Regions from separate parts of the Homo sapiens genome. Here region 2 is linked to region 1. The links come from fine-mapping of genetic effects on gene expression. A gene starts in region 1. The other region holds a variant in brackets. All regions are shown on one strand. Distances are between the middles of the regions.

Region 1 (4,392 bases):
TAGAGTCAGTGGCTCATTTGACAGAGGTGGAATCAATGTGAAAAGTAATGCTATCCACTTATTTAAAAAAAAAAGCAATGAGGTGGAAGACCAGAGGGTGAGAGAACATCAGTGTTCAGTTACTTCTGAGCTAGGAATATAATTGACAGCTTTAGCATCTCTCCTTAAATACTGAGAATTCTGAATTCTCAAATCAGAATCTGACCAGGCACAGTGGTGGCTCATGCCTGTAATCCCAACACTGTGGGAGGCCTAGGCAAGACCTGTCTCTACAAAAAAAAAATTTTAAAATTAGTCACGGGTGGTAGTGCGGGCCTGTAGTCCTAGCTACTACTAAAGAGGCTGAGGTGGGAAGGCTGCTTGAGGCCAGGAATTAAAGACTGCACTGAGCCATGATTGTGCCACTGGACTCTAGCCTAGGTGACAAAGAGAAACCTTGTCTCAAAAAAAAAAAAAAAAAAAAAAAATTAACACACAGTAAAAGTTTATTGCAAAACCAAATAGACTCATTCTGCAAAACCACTTAGAAAGTTAACTGTAATTGAATCATGTCCTCTCAGTTTATCAATGAGCAACAGATATAGTAAGCAGCTCAATTACATCATTCTATACTCTGGAGCTAAGTGATACCGCTTTTAATCTAGTGTTTACTACAAGAAAATGACTGTCATTATTCTGAACTCCTAAACTAACATCTAGTTAGGACACTACAGAAACTCCTAGAGGCAAAGGAGCAGCCCTGTCTTAGCTGGGCAGATTAAGGACACTCTTTTGACTAATTGGATTTAACAATCCATTACCATCTTTCAAAAGGACAAAAGGGGTGCATTTTGTGTTTTAATCTCTTTGATAAAGATACAGCATTTGGGGCCGGGCGCGGAGGCTCACGCCTGTAATCCCAGCACTTTGGGAGGCTGAGGCAGGCAGATCCCGAGGTCAGGAGATCGAGACCATCCCGGCCAACGGGGTGAAACCCCGTCTCTACTAAAAATACAAAAATTAACTGGGCCTGCTGGCGCGCACCAGCTACTCGGGAGGCTGAGGCAGGAGAATCGCTTAAACCCAGGAAGCGGAGGCTGCAGTGAGCCGAGATCGCACTACTGCACTCCAGCCTGGCGACAGAGCGGGACTCCGTTAAAACAAACAACAAAAAAAGATACAGCATTTGAGCCGGGAGCAGTGGCTCACGCCTGTAATCCCAGCACTTTCGTAGGCTGAGGTGGGTTGATCACTTGAGGTCAGGAGTTCGAGACCAGCCTGGCCAACTTGGTGAAACCCGTCTCTACTAAAAATACAAAAATTAGCTGAGCATCCTGGTGCGCGCCTGTAATCCCAGCTACTCCGGAGGCCGAGGAGGGAGAATCGGTTGAACCCGGGAGGCGGAGGTTCCAGTGAGCCCAGATTGCGCCACTGCACTCCAGCCTGACGACACAGCGAGACTCCGTCTCAAAAAAAATAAAAAATAAAAAAAAATAGAGGTTGAAAGCATCAAGTTTTGAATGCACAATAGCTTGGCAGAAAAACTTTCACTTGAAAATTTGATGAGCAACTCCTGGAACCTTCACCAAGCAATTTTTGAAATATACCGAGTTTTGCCAGAAAACTCGTTTTTAACTCAAATAAGGAGCCAAGAGAAATAGTCTGCTTACTCATGCTTACACATTTTGGGAAAAATTACTTGTATACCAGTGTCTGACTCATTCCTCCAACTCTGAAAGGTCTGATGAGGACTTAGCCTCTCGGACTTCGTGAGGTGGCTAATTTACGGTTTATTCCTGGCCTTCCTACCTCCTCAGAAAAGCCAACTAGCAGGGCTCCACAGCAGGGACCGGCCGGCGACCATGTAATGGAACAGGAGCGCAGAAAGAAAGGGGGGCGGACTACGAAAAGTCATCAAGGACCACACAAGCTTTAATACAAAGATTGCACAATGAGCGCGGGGCGCGGCACACAATAAGAAGCTCTGGAAACGCACACTCTCTGACACCTCAAAGTTTTAGGGACTTGGATGGCTGCAGAAAAATATTGGCAAAGGGATTTTCTGGGGAGGCAGGAAGAAAACGGCCGCCCTGCGAGGCGACGACCAGGCGCGGGGGACGAAGGGACCGCTGGACCCACGCCCAGGCCGGGTCGGCGGGGTCGGCAATCCTCAAGGGGGAAATGGGGTCCGAGGCACGCCCCAGGCAGCGGGCCCCGCTCTTCGGCAGCTCCACTCACCAGGAACTGGAGCATGATGTCGGTGGGGAGGGCGAGGAGGGCGCGAAGGACTGCAGCAGCTCCGCGGGCCGGTCCGAGCCTACCTCCCCATGCGCGGGGGGGGCGGAACCCCTCGTCGACTTCCGGGTCACGCCACGCCCCGCCCCGCTCCTCCCACTCAGCCCGCGCCCGGAAACGACTTGCAGTGTCGCAGCGCCCAGGTTCCCCCTGGCGGAGCGCGTTGGCCTCACCGCCTGAACCGGCGGGGCAGCGAGCGCGCGACAGGACTTGCGAAGAGCAAGTCCCGAGCCTGGCTGGGCATCCTTGAGCATCCCGCCTCTGTAAACCTGGGCCGAGGCCCAGGAATCTATATTATTCTCAGCACGCGGACTATTCTGATACACAGCCCAGTTTAGGGCTCTCTAACCTAGAAGGACGGCATGAGCAGCGGGTCCCATCCCTAGGTTCGCAGCTGAATCGTGGGGGCTTTTGCAGCATCCTCTACTTGGGCCCAGCTGGACTTTGCGGGGAGGAAAGGAGGCTTGTAGCTCTCAAAGCTCCGCAGGTGTGCTGTGTAATCAGCGTTGTGTAATCAGGTGTTGTGTAATCAAGGTAGAGGCTGGGTACCGTATGGGGCCCATGCTGCCGTGTGCCGCACGCCAGTCACTGAGATGATGAGTTTTGTAGCAGAGAAAAGGTTTATTCACCAGGCAGCCAGCCGAGGAGACGGGAGAACAGATCTCAAATCTGCCTCCCCAAAGATGGGTTTTAGGGATATTTATGGGATAGAGGAGCAGGGTGGTCTGAGGTGTGGGGAAAGGCGGTTGAAGGTAAGGAAAAGTTTGGCAATGGGTTATCTGCGCGAGGTAGTCAAGCTTCATGGCTCTTTATAGGATACATGGTCACAAAATGACATCCTTAGCATGATCTGAGTGTGGAGGTTTTGGCCCTCTAATGTCAGAAGGACACCCATCGGGCTTTCATGCAGGCCCAGTTGAGAGGTTGGTGGTTTAAACTGTACAAGAACTGACCCCAACTTCCTGAAAAACAAGAAACCTTTATCAAGCAACCCAGATGTCAGAGATGTTATCCATAAGGAAGATAGTGGGAGCTTAGATATATATTGTTTAGCTCTGTGACTTTAGCTATGTGGGTTTTTTAATCCACTAAAAGCAGGTGACTAAAAACAAGTGAGAGAAGTTGCATTTGGCAGGCCTCATCAGGTTGGCTCTCAGTTTCACTGGCCTAGCTGGGTTTCTTGCCTGGGATGGCCATAGGTCCTGTTGACAATTTGTATCATCGCCACAAAGAGTCTGTTCTGTCAGTCTTCCGGTCTGTGTATGTGTGTGTTTTTTTCTCTCTTTCTCTTTTAAAGAATTTATTTTAAGCCTATTATACCACACAGTATGTTTTAAACACTAACTCCCTAATAAGATATATAACTCCCTAATAAGATAAAGCAAAGACAAAAAAAGTTCATCTTATTAGAAACAAGATACACCATCCCTTATTGTCTTCAAAAATTATTGCACTTTAATTTTCATAATTTGACAAAGCATTCATGAAACAATCTGCAGACTAGTTTTAACAGACAAATAACACCTGTAAGCAGACATGACTGTCCTAAATTATTAGGTACGAATTTTACAAACTTTTTTTTTTTTTTGAGACGGAGTCTCGCTCTGTCACCCAGGCTGGAGTGCAGTGGCGCAGTCTCGGCTCACTGCAAGCTCCGCCTCCCGGGTTCACGCCATTCTCCTGCCTCAGCCTCCCGAGTAGCTGGGACTACAGGCGCCCGCCACCACGCCCGGCTAATTTTCTGTATTTTTAGTAGAGACGAGGTTTCAACGTGTTAGCCAGGATGGTCTCGATCTCCTGACCTTGTGATCCGCCCGCCTCGGCCTCCCAAAGTGCTGGGATTACAGGCGTGAGCCACCACGCCTGGCCCAAACTTTACTTATATTAGTGGTAACGGTGGAGCTGGAGAGTATCACGCCTTCTCCAAGCTGCCCAGCAAGAACCATCAATAGTGTGGTGGAACTTATGGCACTTTCCAAGGCCACAGCTCCTTTGGCCTGCAGATGTCAGCCCACACATCTCCCTCTGCTTGTGGACTGGTTTGGTGATCGACTGGGTGTCAGGATTTCTTCTGATAACTTCATAGAATGGATCAATGAGGATAACCTCAAAAAATCT
Region 2 (4,392 bases), 31 kb after region 1:
CTTGGGAGGATATTTGGTATTATTTTTAACAAAAATGTTAAGCACATATATTTCTGATAAAGTACTGCCAGGAATTTATCAAGTCTTATCAGTTCAAATGGACAAAAATGGGGCCGGGTTCAGTGGCTCACGCCTGTAATCCCAACACTTTGGAAAGTTGAAGTGGGAGGATTGCTTGAGGCCAGAAGTTTGAGACCAGCCTGGGCAACATAGTGAGACCTTGTCTCAACAACAAAAAATTAAAAATTAAAAAAGTAATAAAAATAAAAACAAATGTAAAAAATGTTCATGAATGCATATGTAAATATATAGCTAGAGGTAAACAGATAAGTACACACACACATATACACACAAAATTATTAAATGCCACACTGTTTAAAATTTTAAGAAGCTTGGAAACAGTCAACATGTCATAGAATCTGATTAAAAAACAAAGTACTAGCTAGGCATGGTGGTGTGTGCTGTATTCTCAGCTACTTGGGAGGCTGAGGCAGGAGGATCATTTGAGCTCAGGCGTTCCAGCTATGATCATGCCACTGCACTCCAACCTGGGTGACAGAGTAAGACCCAGTCTCTAAAACAAACAAATAGGCCAGGCGTGGTGGCTCCTGCCTGTAATCCCAGCACTTTGGGAGACTGAGGTGGGAGGAATGCTTGAGGCCAGGAGTTCGAGAACACCTGGGCAACATAGCAAGACCCTGTCTCTACAAAAAATAAAAAATTAGCTTGGTGTGACAGCATGTGCCTGTAGTCCTGCTTACTTGAGAAGCTGAGGTGGGAGGATCACTTGAGCCAGGTAGGTCGAGGCTGCAGTGAGCCACGATTGCAGCTTTGCACTCCAGCCTGGGTGACAAGAGTGAGACCCTGTCCCCCCAAAAATAAAAACAAAAACAAACAAACAAATAAAACAAGGGTCTGGTTAACTATCTCACAACTGGAAAACCAGGCAGTCAATTAAAAAGGATGGGCAGGAGCTGTATGTGCTGATGAGAAAAAATCTCATGGAGACCCTGCAATTTACAGAAGTACATTGAGAGTAATTAGTTAAGTCCTGGAAAAAATCAAAGGAAAAACCATTAGGAGTTCCACCCCACAACACTACAGGACCTTAGTAGAGACAAGAAGGGTGGCCTGACTTGGTATCATCTTAGGACACTGGAATGAACTGGTGAACGAAGCACACCACAGGCTGGGTGGAATAGACCCTGGGATCTCCTTGGAAGAAGCACAGGCTCCAAGTAACTCAGCTGGCACTGTACTCAGCCCTGGCCAACTCTCAACGTCTCTCAACCCAGAGGGCTCAGCCACCGAGACAGCCCAGACAAAAAAAATTATTGGGGATTATAGGGTGGATTCAGAGGTTGCCTCAGACATCTCCAAAGCAACATAAAAATGGAGGTAGTGTAGCCTCGTAGTTACATATATAGATTCAAAAGACGTACTGCCTGGGAAACTCTATACTATGCAGTGTTATCTGTGTGACTTTGGACAAGTTAACCTCCCTGTGCCTCAGCCTCCTCAGCTGTAAAATGTGGATAATGACAGTTCTACCTCATAAGACTGCTGTGTCTTCCAATCAATTAACATGTCAAGTATTTAAAACAGTACCTGGCACATACATGCTTAATAAATGCCAGCTACTATCATTTATATTACATATTCTAAGCAAAAGAAAATCATAATCGGCCGTCCTGTCATTAAAGAACAAAGACAACCTTCAGACATTCTTAGAGAATTTCAGGAATATGAGACAGCATGCTTTTTCTTGAGGGAAGGAACCTCAGTACAAATTAAAAATACCAAGAGATAGGCCGGGCGCGGTGGCTCAAGCCTGCAATCCCAGCACTTTGGGAGGCCGAGGCGGGCAGATTACAAGGTCAGGAGATCAAGACCTGGCTAACACGGTGAAACCCCGTCTCTACTAAAAATACAAAAAATTAGCCAGGCGTGGTGGCGGGCGCCTGTAGTCCCAGCTGCTCGGGAGGCTGAGGCAGGAGAATGGCGTGAATCGGGGAGGCGGAGCTTGCAGTGAGCCGAGATCGCGCCACTGCACTCTAGCCTGGGCGACAGAGCAAGACTCCGTCTCAAAAAAAAAAA[G/AG]AAAGAAAGAAAGAAAGAAAAAAAAAAATACCAAGAGATAAATCAAAAGAAAGAACTCGTGAATGGTGACGCCATGGTGGGGAACACAACTGGTGTTTTGCAGTGAATCCATGTAAATATACAACTAAAACTAAGTAGCTGAGGATATTATGGTTGCATAACAGATGTAAATGTTACAAAACCTGACAAGGTTAAAATGATATAAGCAAACATCATCTGAGGGTGGAAGAGGAAGTGTAAAAGAAGTCATCATTTCATCTTTCCCATCAGGGAGTTAACTGATTCAAAATTTACATGTAGTAAAGAAATTATAAGGGGGGAAAGTAACCAAAGTATCTTAATAATGTTTCATAATGTTTTTCCTTACTCGCAGTGATCTTTTAAAAGGTGACATACTCTAGTAGTAAAGAAACATTTGTCTGGAATTTGGCAATTCCTTTCGTTTCTCTTCAATTAGATTTTTGTCTGTGTTCATGTAAAATTCACATGTATACCTATGTAACAAACCTGAATGTTGTGCACATGTACCCTAGAGCTTAAAGTATAATAAAAAAATAAATAAATTCATGTAAAATTAAATATTTGTTTTTTAAAACAGCATGTAAAAGGTCATCCTATTCTCATTAGTTGCCTCTGTATGTCTCTGTTGCTTTCTTTCTCTCTCTCCCCCTCCCTTTCTCATATGTACGTACACATAAAGCAATGTTTGAAAATTTATCAAATGTCAACATTTGGTAATTTCTAGGTGGTGAGATTTTGAGTGTTAGTTATCTCCTTTTGAATATTTTTATAATAAGCCTATATCTTAAAAAAAAAAAACAAAACAAAACAGAGACGGAGTCTTGTTCTGTTGCCCAGACTGGATTGCAGTGGCATAATCTTGGCTGACTGCAGTCTCAACCTTCCCAACTCAAGTAATCCTCCTACCTCAACCTCCCAAGTAGCCAGGACCACAGGTGAATGCCCCAACACCCAGCTAATTTTTAAAATTTTTTGGTAGAGACAGGGTGTCTCTATGTTGCCCAGGCTGGTCTTGAACCCTTGGCCTCAAGCAATCATCCTGCCTCAGCCTTTCAAAGTGATGAGATCACAGGCATGAGCCACCACACCCAGCCAAGCATGTATCATTTTATAAACATAAACTTATTACATAAATAAAGGCTCTGTTAGCAGTACCAATTTCAAATAAGTCATATATAGCTGCAAAGTAACAAAAAAACTCATTCTATTAATTTATGTCAGTCTTTAAAGAATTATTAAAAATCCTTTCAACATAATCAACTCACCAGGAAGTGCTGCTTTACTTATAATTCCTGTCAGCAGAGCCAATTCCTGCAAAGACCCAGCACTAACATCCTGACAGCGCAGAATTGCTTGTATGGTATCAGAATGTGAAATAAGAAACTGCAATACCTAAGCCATTGAAAAGGAAGAGGAATAGAAAAAACAGGTAGAAGTAGAAAATTATATATAAATGCATAATTCATTTTATAAATAATGTTGAAGGAAGTAACCTTCAACTTTACCATAATACTCAGTAATACAATACTCAGCCTCACAATAAGTGAGGATGAGTAACAGATAAGCAATTGTTTTCTGCACTCACATATTTATCTCTTCAGGAAGTAAACATTTAAAATTCACAAGACTAAAGGATTATTTTAAAGCTTATAAGTTAATACATTTGGAGACTACTGTAGAAGAATATAACTCAGAACTACTGTATGAAAACTATTATCTGACCCCTATTTTCTTTATTGTTTGGCCAAATGAACTAGAGTAAGAATGTAATATAAATGGGTATAAAAATGACTAGTGAATTCAAGAAGCTGTTCTATGAAACAGTAACTAGCATGACATGGGGAAATCACATAAAAGCTTTTGTCTAATTCTTTTTTTAAAAAAATTCATTTTTATTATAATAGAGATAGGAACCAGGCATGGTGGCTCACGCCTGTAATCCCAGCACTTTGGGAGGCTGAGGCGGGTATCACCTGAGGTCAGGAGTTTGAGACCAGCCTGGCCAACATGGTGAAATGCCATCTCTACTAAAAATACAAAAATTAGTCAGATGCAGTGGTGCACACCTGTAATTCCAGCTGCTCAGGAGGCTGAGGCACAAGAATCACTTGAACCTGGGAGGTGGAGGTTGCAGTGAGCTGGAATCGTGCCACTGCACTCCAGCCTGGGTGACGAAGTGAGACTCTGTCTCAAAAAAAAAAAAAAAGAGAGACAGAGAGAGAGACAGAGAGAGAGAGAGAGAGAGAGAGAGAGAGAGAGAGAGAGATAGGGTCT

The links. PIP is the estimated chance that this variant, and not a neighbour inherited with it, causes the effect.
Region 2: its variant is fine-mapped to the expression of STMP1 in prefrontal cortex (BrainSeq, PIP 0.95).

The regions. Positions count from the first base shown.
Region 1 is chr7:135,660,420-135,664,811 of GRCh38, reverse strand. STMP1 (short transmembrane mitochondrial protein 1) reads right to left here and starts at 2,298. Exons shown (of 3, transcript NM_001130929.2): 1 at 2,218-2,298. The coding sequence starts at 2,232. It also overlaps the pseudogene RPL15P11. RefSeq lists enhancers at 515-1,039, 1,040-1,564 and a silencer at 2,204-2,423.
Region 2 is chr7:135,629,462-135,633,853 of GRCh38, reverse strand. NUP205 (nucleoporin 205) reads right to left here. Exons shown (of 43, transcript NM_015135.3): 35 at 3,384-3,510. Among named protein-coding and RNA genes, the nearest start is that of STMP1, 31 kb to the left of the region's middle. The variant G/AG (reference allele first, on the strand shown) is at 2,098.